Linked DNA regions of Homo sapiens: all the other regions are linked to region 1. The links come from fine-mapping of genetic effects on gene expression. A gene starts in region 1. Each other region holds a variant in brackets. All regions are shown on one strand. Distances are from middle to middle. Region 1 holds the start of PTK7 (protein tyrosine kinase 7 (inactive)). Region 2 overlaps PTK7 (protein tyrosine kinase 7 (inactive)). Region 3 overlaps PTK7 (protein tyrosine kinase 7 (inactive)).

Region 1 (5,102 bases):
CCTAGCCAGCCTAGGTTCCTTACTCCAGCCTTATTAACAGTGGGATCTCACTACAACTCCAGTTAATTACACAATTAAACAATGAGATGCAAACATCTACTGTGATCTATTAAAAAACCGTTGCCCCTGAAGTCATGCGTCTGGGGGTGGGTTGAGTCCCAGGATTTCACTAGAAGACAGCAGGCGCCTCGGCCTCCACTGAAATTGTTTACAGCACATGGACAGGTTCCACAACAAGGCACATTTGGTGGAATTGATTTAAGGCTCTCATTAAAATGTTCCTTTGTTGAGCACAAGACATCCCCCCACCCCTGAGGAGACTACAGACCTCCTGTCCTAAGCCCTCAGCCTGCCCTAACTTCCCCCAACAGGATCCCCCACACACACGCGCGCACACACACTAAACACCAACCAGTCACCAGATTAAGTCAATTAACATCAGAGTCATCTTCTCATGGAAGGAATTTAGGAATTCAGCATTTGTTGAGCAAGAGCCCCATCTTCACCAGAAACTCCCCTTGACTCTAGTACCCTGAACAGCAGCAGTGAAGGCAGCCTCATTGGGCAGACCCACACACCAAAACCCAACCAGGACAGCCAGGGGGCCTGTGAGCTTGGGCTGCTCGCCCAGATGGCTGGGCCCCCATCCTGGCTGTGCAAAAAAACTTCCATACTTCCTCTGGGAGCAGATGTGGATTCTGCCACGAGCAATAACCACCACACACATCACAAGAAAAACGGGGCAACTCCAGAAACACCTCCTCCAAATCCCTGGAGATTGGTCTCTTTCCTGGGTTACATTTACCTCTCCTTTTACAACTGGGGGCAGGGGAGATGTTGATTCCACCAGCACCAAAACCCCTCCACAGCTGGCAGGCCAGAAAGATATTAGAAAGGCAATTCCTTACCCATGCCCTTCCCATTGCCACCTTCAAAGGAGATGGAAGGTGATCACCTAGGACAGGTCTCCTCGACAGAGCTCCCCAAGAGAAAGCTGCTTCGAGGACCACCAAGGAGTGTTGTGGAGGGTCGGGGGCTTTATTTCCAGTCCGGGCTATTTGGGATGTGCGGGTGGCTTGGTGCTTTCCTGTAAGGCACTTCAACACCTCAGTGATGACTCTTAGGTGTGACCAAGCCAGGAAATAAAAGCTGCGGGAGTTGGGGGGGCGGTGCTGTCTGCCCTGGTGATGAGGGCCACACCCTCGTTAAAATGCTAAGGCCCCCCCCCAAGAAAAGCCAGAATGAGCTCTTTTTGCCTTTCTTCCCTTAGAAATACTTCCTTTCCTCTGTGAGGACAGTCAGGATGGAAATCCAGGAAGGAGCAGAACAAACCCCGTCCGCACCTTTGCAGCCAGGCCATGCCCGATTTTGGCAGCGGCCTTCACACATTAGTCACCGCGACAGCCTGGGACCCTCGGATCCCCGGATTCGGCCCTGGCACGGAGTGGGCGCAGGGTTCCAGACCAGTAGCTAGAGGCCATGGATGGGGGCGGCCCCTAACTCTTCCCTTCTTCCGCCCTCACCCGCAGGGCCATCTGGGGTCTCAGCTTTGCCCAGGAACTCGGAGGAGGGAAGCCGGGAACGTCGGGTCGGCGTAGGTAACAAAGCTCCGCGCTTTGCGCGCCGCAGGTCTGTCCGGCATCGGGCCCCAAACCAGCAACTCTTACCTGGGCCGACCCTGCCGGGTGGGGTGGGGAATTCCTTTTTCTCCATCGCGCTCCCCACGGTGGGTGCGGATGGTCTTTTCTCCCCCGACAAGAAACTCCCCATCTGGGCCCGAGAGCCAGCAACTCTCGGCAGTTCTCGAGCAAACTCTCGGCTCAGACCAGAAAAACTCAGGGAGGCTGGAAATGCGTCCCCGCGGCGCGAGTGGGAGGGGTACCCTGACCGCGTCCCTGGAGGCTTCGCCAGCCTCCCGACACCCGGGCTCCTTGCGCCCTTCCGCCGCAAGCCTGCACCCCCAGCGAGCCTCTCCACTACTCCAGGGCCGTTCCAGCCGCCCAAACCCACCGCCCCGGGCGCAGCCTTTTGCCCACGGGACTCCCGCGCTTCCCAAGCTCTGTGCCCCCAACTCTCGGGTACTCACCGCCCAGCAGCGGCAGCAGCAGGACGCTGAGCAGAGGCAACCGGCGGGGTCTGGCCGGGGATCCCCGCGCAGCTCCCATCGCGGCGGGCTCAGGAAAAGGAGCTGAGGGCGCACGGCGGGCGCGCAGACTGCGCTCCGCGGCGGGCACAGGAGGCGGAGCGCACCGGAGCGCGGGCGCCGCAGCAGCAGCCGCAGCCGGAGCCCGACCCCGAGGCGTCCCGAGGCGTCCCGAGCCGGAGCCGCGCGCGCCCAGTACCTCCGAGTCCCCGCGCGCCGCCGCCGCCGCCGCCAAGCCCCGCCCCACGACGCCCCCTCCCCTCCGGCCCCCGCACGGCGCCCCGCCCCCTCGACGCCCCCTCCTCGCCGAGGCGGGGAGGAGCTCAGTAGGGGGAGGGGTCTGGAGAGGGATGGAGAATAGAGAGAGCAAGGCTCAGGGAAGTGCAGGGGACCTGAGTATTTGCTGTACCCACCACCGACTCTGCAGGGATCCGGGAGAACCTAAGTGACTTGTGCGATTCCGTGGACCCTGGGGAGAATGGTCCATTCTGGGCATACCTGGAGGCTCTGGCCAACAGTTCCCCCAGAATTCTCCAGGTGGGGGCAGGGGAAGAGGCGGGCCCCGCCAACTCTTCAGCAACCCAAAATCTTAACGGCAGACCCAGAACAGCAGGGTGTCCTTAATGTCCCCAAGTAACCTGAAGATGCTGTGTAGCCCGGAGAGGGGCTGAAGTGTGCATGACTGGGGTCTGGTTTGGCTGTAGACCAATCTGAACCCAAAGGTAGAAACACGCTGGGCTCTGAAAGCCAGGCTGAAGTCTGCTAACTGACAAATTCATCCCAAGTCCATCTCCAGGCAGTCTGGGCTGTGTCAGGGTATGGCCAAGTCTCCAGCTGTGGGGAGGCCCAGCACAACCCTTGTTCCAGGCACCCCCACCCCCAGCGCCACCACCCCCACATTCTTTCTTTGTTGTGAAAGCAGCAAGGGGTGTAGGAGGCGGGTCAGGAGGAGTCAAGCTTTAGAAGATGGGCCCCAGCTGCTGCTCAGGCCTCCAAGATATGCTGAGAGGGGATGGATAGTGCCTTGTCTCCCCTCTGGTTCCGGAGGGCCCCCCAGGCCTGTTTAGACCTCCCTTCCCCCAAGCAGCTGGGAGGAGGAATGGCAGCCACAGAGGGCCTCACAGCCAGGAGAAGTGGCGCCAGGACTCCAGGGTCCTGCCACATGGCCACCACATGTCCCTGACAACCCAGTCCACAGCACCTTCTCCTTGGGTTGTGAGCCTCCTTCTTCCCCATCCCCCAGATGCCTTCCTACAGGCCCTGCTGGAGATGATACAAACAACGGGAGGAAGAGAGGAGAGATCCAAGAATCAACACTCCTCCTGCTGCTCCATCCATCACTGCCCCTCACCTTCTGTGAAGGGCCCCAACACAAGCCCTGCTTCATACCCTCTTCAATCAGGACTCAAGTCACAGAAAGGTTACCTGATTCTTTTATTTAAGAAAAGTGAAATACATGGACCTGAAGTGAGACAGCAGAGGGAGGGAGTAAGAGCGGCCAGGGCAAGGCAGCTTGGCTGGCCAGCCCCCAACCCTCTGACTGAAAAGCCAGCAGCAGGCTGCATCTCTGAGGGCCATACCTGCTTTGTACCCACCTTGGGGCCTCAGAGCTAGCTACTCTAGAGGACCACAGGGTGCAGAGAGGGTGTCCTGAGGGTCCTTCCTAAGAGGGATTCCTGAGGAGGGAGCTGAGACCCTAAGGGCAGCAGCAATCTTCTGGTTAAACTGCTCCCCTTCACTGTCCCACCTAGGGGTGGGGAAGAGCCAGGAGCAATGGGGAATGCTGTGAGGGCTGTGGGGGTGGGGGGACCCAGCAGACCTGGGGGCCGGGTTGAATGTCAGCTGCTTGAAGAGAGGTCCATGGTGCTGGCACTGAGGCCCCGGGAGACCTGAAACAGACAACACTACCCCATCAGCTCAGGGACCTCGGCCTCCCAAAGACTGGCTCCTAGAGTCCATCCATCCCATGGTCACAGTGTATCTCTGGACCTAGGATCACATCTGTCTCTGGACCAGTCTATCTCTGGACCTGGGACTTTGTTTAGCCTCTGCTAGGGTTTTCCAGAAGGCCACAATCTGGTGGAGAAGCTACCTGGAAGAACCACATGAATACTGGCATATACTTGTGTGTTGATACAAGAAGTCATTTGCCATTAAAATATCACTAGTGTTTTCTCAGATGGGGATTATTTAATACTTTTCTTTTTCCATTCTCATCTACTACTAAGGCGGCTGCAGGATGAAAAAATAATTCGTATCTCCAAATAATTCTTAAATTATTCATAATTCCAAAGTACCAGTTTACAGAATATTCCTATTTCCCTCCTTATTAACTTATTTGCTACTATGTCTGGCCTGAAACTGTCCCTTGGTGGTCAGCACTCACCACAAGCTATCTGCCTGATTCCTTAATGACTGCAATCCCCTGGCTCATCTTCATCCCAGATGACTCCTCTCCCTTCCCTCTTCCCTTACTCCACTGGGCTTGCTCACTGGCTGTCCTTTTTTCCTCACCCACCAATATGCTCACAAGCACTGCTCTCACCTGGAGGGGTGCTGCACTAGGTTGGTTCAGATAGTTCAAGGAGGCTGCTCGCTTCATGTTGCTGCTACAATGGAAAACGGAAGAATTGAGGCCTCCTCTCTTCCTCCTGAGTGGCCTTAAGGCTGTGGGCCTCTTGAGCACTGCCACACTGGGGCACCCATTCTACCCAAACTCTCTCTCCATGGCTGGCCCGTTGACTTCCTCCCTGTTTCTCTCCGAGATACTTCTCCAGAGATCAGGAGCCAAGAGGAGTTGGAGGCAAGGGCTTACTTTACTTGCCTGCTTTACCATATCTTTTTTTTTTTTCTTTTTTTTTTTGAGACGGAGTCTCGCTGTTGTCGCCTGGGCTGGAGTGCAATGGCATGATCTTGGCTCCCTGCAACCTCTGCCTCCTGGGTTCCAGCAATTCTCCTG
Region 2 (5,102 bases), 66 kb before region 1:
TCAGCATTTTCCAAAGGGTGACTCGCATGAGAATTTTTGGTGGCTCATGGTAAACATGTCTTAACGTATGCTAGGAAAAAACGTAACTATGACAAACCCATGATTTCTCATATTTTTTCCTAGAACAATGGTAACTTAGTTTTTTTTTTTAAAGAGTCAATTTAAATAAAACATCAAGTAAATAATACTACAGGTAGTACACAGGAATGACAAAATCTGCACGAAGGGCAGTGAATAACAGGCTCTGGGGCCACACTGGGCTAGATCTCTACCTATGCTTCCCTCCACCTCTAACATTCTAGGTTTCAGGGACTTCAGAACACTAGCCCGTACCCAGCCTCAAGACACAGCGGGTGACTTGTAGTTAGGCAGGGGCAGCTGTAGTCAAGGCAACATACCCAGCGTGGTGATGGGCTGCAGGCTAGACCGTGGGAAGTGCATCTTATCACTTGTGCTGTGGCGTTTGTTGGTGGCCGCGGGGCCGGAGCCCAAGCTGGTCAAGGCCACTTCTTCTTGGATCTCTGCTGAGGGCTGCCCGTTCTGCAAAGGCCCACCTGGGAAGGAGGAGGACAAGAGCGTCACGATGAGACCTGACACTCTGGCCACCATGGGGATTTCTGTTCTGTCCCCTGGTCTTCCACTCTTGCCAACTTGGGTCCAATCACAGTGCTCCACATGAAAGGGCAAGCCCAAATGATGAAATAATGGGGCTGGGGCTGGGTGGGGGATGTATGGCTATCCCCTAGGGTATGACCCCTTAGTGATGCAGCTGATTATGACCTCTGAGATGAAGCCAACTGCAGACATCTAATCTGAATCACTGGTCCTTAATACCATAGCTACACATAAGGATTTTTGCTTTCATGGGGCCTCCTATTGGGCAAAGCCCTAAACAGGCACAAAGGGAAAATCACAATAATGGAGACCCAACCTCTGCTCCTGAACACCTGAGCTGATAGGAGAGACCCAGCAATGACCTCAAGGAGCTCCCAGTCCAGGAAGTGGGGATAGGAGAAGGGAAGTAAACAGAAAGACTGCCCCTGGGGGAGCTCTTAGACTCATAGAGGGAGACAAGACATGCAACAGCAACGTGTGTACATATACTAATGATATCTGTGGTTTTGTGCTGGGAGGAGGAAACAGCAGGGAATCATAGGAAGCTGGTCCAAGGGGCTCCAATGAAGAAGTCTCAAGCCAGGTTGCTCAGAAGACGAGGCCCTGGGAATCCAACTCCAGGCTTCCCGCTAGGGGTGGGGCAGTCCCAGCTCCAGGACCCAGCAACAGCCGCTCGGTTTCCAGAGTGCTGGCGCTCTCCCCTCCGTGGCCGCGGGAGGGCGCTCAGCTCCCGCACACGGGCACCACCTCCCCGTCCAGGGCCCCTCACCGTTGAGGCATTCCATCTCTGGCTCCTCGCCCTCGGGCTGCTTCTGCAGCCGCTTGGCTTTGCAGCGCTTCTTGCAGTAGAACATGAGGCCCAGCACGGCAATGATGTAGGCCACAGCGGCACCCACCGACAACCCAATGGTCTGGATCATCTTGTAGGGGGGAGGGCTGCCAGGGCCCTCCGACTCCTCCGGCACAGGCTTGTCTGAGAGACACACAGATGGGTCTGGGCAGGGGCTGCTAAGCAAAAGAAGCCCTGCTTCTCTACTAACTCCTCCCAACCCCATCAACAGGGCAACTTAACAGATGGCCCGGGAGGGTCACCACCTTCACTGGCTTTAACAAGGGCCAGCAGGTCCTCATGCCCCACCAAGGTCAAACGAAGACTCTGAAGGAGATGAGGCCAGGGGTTCCCAAGCTGGCTTTGCATCGGAAGCCAAGACAGGCGACACGGATAAGCACACCTGTCAAGGAGCTACCACAAACCCACGTTATTTGTTAAGCTTCCCAAGTGACTTGATAATGTGAGCCAGGCCCCGGAGAGCAGCATTTGGGAGCTTCAGGTTTAGAATTCCAGGCACTGCCTGGCACAGAGCAGGTTTTTCAATAAGCAGATCTGTAGAAGGGATCTGCTGGTCTAGGGGCCTTTTAATGGCCCACACTGAGGGGCCTCAAGAGGCATTAGGGGAATGAAGGGAGACCATGCAGGATCCCCCAACTGCCACACACACCCCAGTGGCTCCCACCAAGGGGGCCTCCTCAGTTCATTTTCATCCATTTAAACTTTCACATTATACTTTGTCTAGAAAAATAACTCTGCTGCCAAACCAAGAAAGTTTAAGAGCTTCTCATTTAAACCACTTTCACCTGTGGATGCAGAAACAAGTCCCCAGAGGAGAAATAAGTCTCCCAGGGGCAGAGAGTTAAGTGCAGGGCCTTTTACCTGACCCATCATCCTCTCTGGGCCTCCTGGAGAAAAGAACCTTGTCCTACTGCATTCTGACCTGGTCCTCCTCCCCAGCCACCCAGAGATATGTGTGGCTGCTGCAGGAACCTGGGAGGCAGCATTGTAGGAAGAGAACACCCCCCCACTCCCCCACAACACACACACACACACACCGACCGTTGGATGTTAAATAAACGACAGCCCGGCTCTGAGCAAGGACTCTAAGACTGTGCAGCAGCATGGTGAGACGGCCGAATCCCCACCGCTGCCACAAAAATGGCTTCTGTGCCATGTTCTGTACACAGGGGCTGAGTACAAGGTGACAAACGTCTGGGCCCACCACTTCCTGTGCAGCATA[A/C]CCCTCCCCAGCCCATACCCACGACATAGAGGGGGGCCTCCGTGTGCTTGATGTTGCAGCTGTTGCCTGCAATGCAGGTGTAGCGGCCTGAGTCCTCAGGGGCCACGTCATGGATCACCAGGGAGCCATTCTGGAAGATGTGCATCCTGTCGGGGGAGAAGCCATAGTGCTGGCCAGCTCGCAGGGAGGGGGGCTGCAGGAGAGGAGGGACGGGTGTGGGAGAGAGGTGGCCCTACCTGGGTCCCAGCTTGGTGGGGTCCAGGATGCGGTCCTTGCCTTTCCACTGAATCAGCGGCTTGGGGTCCCCCTGGGCCTCGCACTGCAGTAGGGCTGTGTGGCCCTGGTACACAGTCGTACGCTCTGGTTCCACTTTGAAGGTGATAAAAACTGGAAGAAAAGAGACCAGCGAGGCGCAGGGAGGGGTAAGCCAAGGGGCTGGCAGGGTACACGGTGCTACCCCAGAGGGCCCTCCCAGCCCCAGGGCCCTGCCACGGTCGCACCTGCCACAGTGAGCTGGACATGGGCACGAATCTGGCCCTGCGGCCCGTTGGAGGCAATGCAAGTGTAGTTGCCAGCGTCATCTCGAGTCACCCGGGCAAAATGCAGGGTCCCAGCGTTGTCTGTCACCCACTCTGGGAGGCTGCTCCCATCTGCAGGGGTAACAAAGGGAAATTATGGGAAGGATCAGGGTTACACAGACAGCTGGCAATGCCTTCAGTCCCTCACCTCTACTCAAAAACACACCATCGCTCCTGACCACCCACAGGCAAAGTCCAAACTCCTGAGCCAAGTGTTAGAAGCCCCTCCGTTATTTACCCCTCTTCCAATTCTTCAGTCTCACCTCTTCCTCCTACTGCCCTGTGTGACATTCCACGTCTGCCAAACCGGACTCTGTTTGGGCCCAGATCGGCCCTGTTCCTACTCCGCTGCCCATCACTTCTCCCTCCTAGAGCCCATTCCCGCTCTTTACCATCCCAGGCTGTAGATCCATTTTAAGCCTCACCTCTCCCAGAAAGTTCCCCCAGACCTGAGCAGAGGGAGCCTACTTCCTCCTCAGAATCTACAACTGTACTCTCTCACTCTAGGTGGAAATGTCAAAATTGGTCCAACCTTTTAAAAAATAATTTGGCAACTCACATCAAGGGCTATAAAAATGTTCATACCCCCTTTCGTGCATAATTATCCCAATTCTGGGAATCTTTCCCAAAGGAAATAAACCTAAATCCAGAAAAAAACTTTGGCTTAAAGATGTTTATTGCAGCAATGAAAAAAAAGGGGGTGGGTGGGTGGCTGGTTAACAACCCAAATCTCCAACATTTAAGGAACAGTTAAGTAAATTACAGTGAATCCAATTGTTGAAATATTATTAGGATCATCAAAACAAATATTCATGAAGAGTGTATAAAGATGTGGGGAAATGCTTGACAATGGTAAGTAAAAAAGGGTATAAAATTACACCGTTACAAAAAAAATAAAAATAAATAATTTTAAAAAATATTTTTAAAAACTACATAGTTATCTGTATTGTCTAATTCTACAATAAGCATGTCTACAGGCATGCACCACCATGCCTGGCTAATTTTTAAATTTTTTGTACAGACAGGGTCTCCCTGTATTGCCCAGGTTGGTCTTGAACTCCTGGGCTCAAGCGATCCTCCCACCTCGGCCTCCCAAAGTGCTGGGATTACAGGCATGAGCTACCACACTCAGCCAATCATGTAAATTTAATAACTGAAACTATATATACAATAAAACTGCTAGGTAAAAAAAGAAAAACATATGCACAGAAAAAGAAGACATACACCCAAAGATGATAAACGGCAGGACTGTACATTTTTTCTCCCAATATTTTTTTTTTTTTTTTTGAGATGGAGTCTCGCTCTGCCACCCAGGCTGAAGTGCAGTGGCACAATCTCGGCTCACTGCCACCTCCGCCTCCTGGGTTCAAACAATTCTCCTACCTCAGCCTCCCGAGTAGCTGGCACTACAGATGCGTGCCGCCACCCCTGGCTAATTTTTTGTATTTTCAGTAGAGACGAGGTTTCACTACTCTATGTTAGCCAGGATGGTCTCTATCTCATGACCTCGTGATCCACCCACCTCAGCTTCCCACAGTGCTGGGATTACAGGCGTGAGCCACCACGCCCGGCCTCTTCCAGTATTTTGTAAAGGAGCCCATGTAACTTTTGTTTCTTTTTTCTTTTGAGTCAGAGTCTCACTCTGTCAGCCAGACTCTGGTGCAATGGCATGATCTCGGCCCACTGCAGCCTCCACCTCCTGGGTTCAAGCGATTCTCCTGCTTCAGCCTCCTAAGCAGCTGGGATTGCAAGCATGTGCCACCACGCCTGGCTAACTTTTGCATTTTTAGTAGAGATGGGGTTTCACCATGTTGGCCAGGCTGGTCTCAAACTCCTG
Region 3 (5,102 bases), 25 kb before region 1:
GCTATGACAAGGGAGTAAGTCTGCCTAACTCAAGGATGAATAAGACATTTATCCACTTCAGATTAAAGCCTTGTTGCTTGCTCAACCTAGCCTTTAAAACAAATAAAAGTGATACTCTGATCTCCATCATCCAATCCCTGGTCTGTCTGTTTTTCTCCCTCTCTTTCACCCCCTTCGACTGGTTTTAAACTCAGAAGGGAGAAGGGTATTTACTGGTGCTGTCAATACAGTTTCCATTATAATGGTTTATGCCTGAGCATTTTGTTTTTATTTTTATTGATTCTGTGAATGGATAAATGTTCCTGTTGTATTTTCTAAATGGTTACTTGCTGATAAGCAGCAAACCTTCTGGGTTTTGTGTAGGTTTTGTATTTGCCCAAATGACTCAGTTCTCTCACTGATTGTAGTAGTTTTTCAGTTGATAATTGGGTTTCCCATGTAAAAAAGGTACCTCTGCAAAAAACATGAACTTTATTTAGACTTTCAGTCTTTTTTTTTCCTGTAAGTGACAGGGTCTTGCTTAGTTGTCCAAGCTGCAATCCTCCCACCTCAGCCTCCCAACTAGCTGGGACGATGGGTACACGCCACCTGGCTATATTCTTTCTTATAGCATTATTTCAGCTAAAATAATAATAAATAGTAGTGACTTTATTATTTTAATTTAGTAACTTCATTTTAATGCAAATAGCATTGTATTTCATTTTTAAGTATAATGATGGCTATGTTTGTTTTTTTAATCAGAAATGGATGTTAATTTATATCTAGTGTCATTTTTGCCTCTATTGAGAGAATTGTGTGACACCTTTGCGGTTGGTTTGTTTTTTTTTGGTTTTTTTTTGGTGGGGTAGGGGGAACAAAGTCTTGCTCTGTTGCCCAGGCTGGAATGCAGTGGTAGGATCTCAATGCACCGCAACCTCCACTTCCTGGGTTTAAGCAATTCTCCTGCCCCAGTCTCCCAAGTAGCTGGTATTACAGGGACCCGCCAACACAACCGGCTAATTTTTTTTTTTCTTTGAGACAGAGTCTTGCTCTGTTGCCCAAGCTGGAGTGCAGTGGCACGGCCTTGGCTCACTGCAACCTCCATCTCCCGGGTTCAAGCAATTCTCCTGTCTAAGCCTCCCAAGTAGCTGGGACTACAGGCGCCCGCCACCATGCCCAGCTAATTTTTGGGTTTTTAGTAGAGATGGGGTTTCACTGTATTGGTCGGGCTGGTCTCAAACTCCTGACCTCAGGTGATCCGCCCACCTCGGCCTCCCAAAGTGCTGGGATTACAGGCATGAGCCACCTCACCTGGCCAAGAGATGCTCCCAAGAACGGGCTGGAACCACCCACCTCCAGAGTTGGAGGCAAGCACACCAATCAACTGCAAGACACAGAGGGTCAAGTGGCACTCTGTATTTTTTTTAGTAGAAACGGGGTCTCACCATGTTGGCCAGGCTGGTCTCAAACTCCTGACCTCAGATGATCTGCCCGCCTCGGCCTCCCAAAGTGCTGGGATTACAGGCGTGAACCACCACGCCCAGCCACCTCTGACGTCTTATGTTGATGAGTTATAAAGGGTAAGCCACCCATGCATTTTTGGGAATACATCCTTTACTTGTTTATGGCACATTACCGTTTATCATAGTGTTAGATTTAATTTTCAAGTATTCTATATTAGACTTTTACACCAACGTTTCTAAGTAGTGTGGTTTTCTGCACTGTCAGCATTTGAGAACAAAGCTATATCAACTTTGTGACACACACAGGCTGTTGTCCATCTGTTCCTTGGCTCTGTGACAGTCTCTACAAAGCATTTACAGGCTCTACTTCTTCAACATTTTTCAAAATTTTCCCTCAAAACTATTTGATACAACTATCTTTCTTTTTTTTTTTATTTTTTTTTTTGAGACGGAGTCTTGCTCTGTGACCCAGGCTGGAGTGCAGTGGCGCAATCTCAGCACACTGCCAGCTCTGCCTCCCGGGTTCATGCCATTCTCATGCCTCAGCTTCCCGAGTAGCTAGGACTACAGGTGCCCACCACCACGCCCGGCTAATTTTTTGTATTTTTAGTAGAGACAGAGTTTCACCATGTTAGCCAGGATGGTCTCAATCTCCTGACCTTGTGATCCGCCCGCCTCTGCCTCCTAAAGTGCTGGGATTACAGGCGTGAGCCACCGCGCCCAGCCTCTTTCTTTCCACCGCGCCCAGCCTCTTTCTTTCTTTCTTTCTTTTTTTTTTTTTGAGACAGAGCTTCGCTCTTGTTGCCCAGGCTGGAGTGCAATGGTGCGATCTCAGCTCACAGCAACCTCCGCCTCCCGGGTTCAAGCTTCCGGAGTAGCTGGGATTACAGGCATGCGCCACCATGCCCGGCTAATTTTGTATTTTTAGTAGAGACGGGGTTTCTCCATGTTGATCAGGCTGGTCTCGAACTCTGGACCTCAAGTGATCTGCCCGCCTCGGCCTCCCAAAGTGCTGGGATTACAGGCGTGAGCCACCGCACCCAGTGATACAACTATCTTTCAATCGTTTTTAAGAGTTACTGTCTATCCAGTCATTTTAATTTTTTTTTTCACATCTGCTTAGTTTTTCATTTAGTTAAGTATTAAGGACCAGCTAATCAACTCATTAGATTGGTCAAGGCAAGACACTTGAACTACACAGCAGGATTTAAAAAGCAGTTGGTTTTTGGTAGTTCTCTGGTAACCACACAAACACATACACACAAATTTGTAGAGTACTCTGAATATAGGATTTCCCCCGTGATCTTGTATAATGCCCTGTTCACAATCTGCAGTATTTTGGAAATTATATAAATTGGACACGG[C/A]CAAATTAAAGATATCTCATAAACTCCTATAAAGTATTTGGGAACTTCAGCTGTATTCCCAAAAAAATCAGTTTTAAACTATAAAGACAAAAATGCATATAAAATCAAAACAGATTTAACAGACATCTTTGAAAAAAATCAAATTACAGTTCAATTTTCTACTTTTTCAAATATGACTAAAAAAAAAGTTACAAGTAGTAATGTCTATCATTTTTTTTTAAAAAAACCCTAATGATTTTTTTTTTTTTTTGAGATGGAGTCTCGCTCTGTCACCCAGGCTGGAGTGCAGTGGTGTGATCTCAGCTCACTGCAGGCTCCGCCTCCTGGGTTCACACCATTCTCCTGCCTCAGCCTCCTGAGTAGCTGGGACTATAGGCACCCGCCACCACGCCCAGCTAATTTTTCATATTTTTAGTAGAGACGGGGTTTCACTGTGTTAACCAGGATGGTCTCCATCTCTTGACCTCGTGATCCGCCCGTCTCAGCCTCCCAAAGTACTGGGATTACAGGCCTGAGACACTATGCCCAGTCATGATTTTTTTTTAAGAGACAGGGTCTCAGGCCAGGTGCAGTGGTTCACAGCTGTAATCCCTAAATCTCTACTAAAAATACAAAAAACTAGCCAAGCGTGGTGGCACATGCCTGTAATCCCAGACACCTGGGAGGCTGAGGCAGGAGAATCGTGCCATTGCATTCCAGCCTGGGCAACAAGAGTGAAACTCCATTTCAGAAAAAAAAAGAGATGGAGTCTCAAAAGCTGGTCTCGAACTCCTGCACTCAAGTGATCTGCCTGCCTCGGCCTCCAAAAGTGCTGGCATTACAAGTGTAAGCCACCACCCCCAGCCAGATTCTTTAATAAATTTCAGTCATTATATTTCCCTGGCACAGATTTATTAGCATAGCACCAAACATGGTAACCCCGATAAATATTAAAATATTTTCCTATCACAATGATCACAAATCTAATTATTAGTATACATTTCCTTAAATGGTAGCCCTCTGTTAAATGGTAAGCTCTCTGGGGACAGTGAATTTTTTCATCCCATTCCCTGCTCTATCTATATCCCTAGTACCTACTGGGTACCTAGAATGTACTCAAGAAATAGCTGTGGGCCAGGCGCAGTGGCTCATGGCTGTAATCCCATCACTTTGGGCAGACTGCTGGAGTTCAGGAGTTTGAGACCAGCCTGGGCAACATGGTGATACCCTGACTCTATAAAAAAATTTTTTTAATTAGCCAGGCATGGTGGTGCTTGCCTGTAGTCCCAGCTACTCAGGAGGCTGAGGTGGGAGGATTGCTTGAGTCTGGGAAGTCGAGGCTGCAATGAGCCATGATTGTGCCACTGCACTCCAGTCTGGGTGACAGAGTGAGACCCTATCTCAAAAAAAAAAAAAAAGGAAAAATAGTTGGGAAGCTATGAATGAAATTAAAGCCTCTTTTTTTTTCTTTGTTTTACCTATTGTCCTTTTATTTTTCTACATTAGAATTGCCAAAGTCACATTTTTTTTCCTTTTTTTTTTAAGTACTGGATCCTAAATGACTTATCTATTTTATATTTTTAATTTCAAATTTATTAATTTCAAAGTTGTATTCAAAAGAAAATTAATAATCGTAAATTATTTCCTAAAAAATGAGACTGAAATAAATGAAAATAAATTAATCTATTGGCCTAAAGTTAGAAAAAAGAATAAAACAAACTTTGCCATTATTTTAGGTTTGTATTATGTAAAGAACATGAAACTTTCTTATTCAATCTAAACTCCATTTCAGTTGGAGACTTATTCCACTGAAATTTATCATCATGACTGATATATCTGTCTTTGCTTTTATCTGTTTCACATTTTAATATTATAATGCTTCCTTTGTTGTAAATATGATTTTATTTAGTTTCTTCACCTCTTATGATCTGCAAAGCATATTTCTTGCTTTTCAATTCTAGTAGCATACCGTTTACTACTTTTAAAAAATCTTGACTTGGCAGGACGCGGTGGCTCACTCCTGTAATCCTAACACTTTGGGAGGCTGAGGCGGGTGGATCACCTGAGGTCAGGAGTTCGAGACCAGCCTAGACAACACGGCAAAACCCCATCTCTACTAAAAATGCAAAAATTAGCCAGGCATGGTGGCAGGCGCCTGTAATCCCAGCTACTTGGGAGGCTGAGGCAGAAGAATTGCTTGAACCCAGGAGGAAGAGGTTGCAGTGAGCTGAAATTGCACCACTACACTCCAGCCTGGGCGACAGAGCGAGGCTGTCTCAAAAAAAAAAAAAAAGTTTGCTTCTTTTTTCCAGCAGCA

What was found. PIP is the estimated chance that this variant, and not a neighbour inherited with it, causes the effect.
Region 2: its variant is fine-mapped to the expression of PTK7 in whole blood (TOPMed, PIP above 0.99). The same link has a PIP of 0.9 or more in blood mononuclear cells.
Region 3: its variant is fine-mapped to the expression of PTK7 in tibial nerve (GTEx, PIP 0.97).

Annotation. Positions count from the first base shown.
Region 1 is chr6:43,073,552-43,078,653 of GRCh38, reverse strand. PTK7 (protein tyrosine kinase 7 (inactive)) reads right to left here and starts at 2,340. Exons shown (of 20, transcript NM_002821.5): 1 at 2,087-2,340. The coding sequence starts at 2,165. KLC4 (kinesin light chain 4) reads right to left here. Exons shown (of 16, transcript NM_201521.3): 15 at 4,689-4,752; 16 at 3,561-4,032. The coding sequence ends at 3,982. It overlaps KLC4-AS1 (KLC4 antisense RNA 1), which reads left to right and starts at 2,424. Exons shown (of 2, transcript XR_002956347.1): 1 at 2,424-2,959; 2 at 3,387-4,321. RefSeq lists a silencer at 2,253-2,352 and an enhancer at 2,682-3,205.
Region 2 is chr6:43,139,903-43,145,004 of GRCh38, reverse strand. PTK7 (protein tyrosine kinase 7 (inactive)) reads right to left here. Exons shown (of 20, transcript NM_002821.5): 11 at 3,188-3,337; 12 at 2,924-3,074; 13 at 2,706-2,833; 14 at 1,385-1,588; 15 at 399-554. Among named protein-coding and RNA genes, the nearest start is that of SRF, 29 kb to the left of the region's middle. RefSeq lists an enhancer at 1,490-1,579. The variant A/C (reference allele first, on the strand shown) is at 2,688.
Region 3 is chr6:43,098,337-43,103,438 of GRCh38, reverse strand. The region is part of intron 1 of PTK7 (protein tyrosine kinase 7 (inactive)); the gene reads right to left. Among named protein-coding and RNA genes, the nearest start is that of PTK7, 25 kb to the right of the region's middle. The variant C/A (reference allele first, on the strand shown) is at 2,807.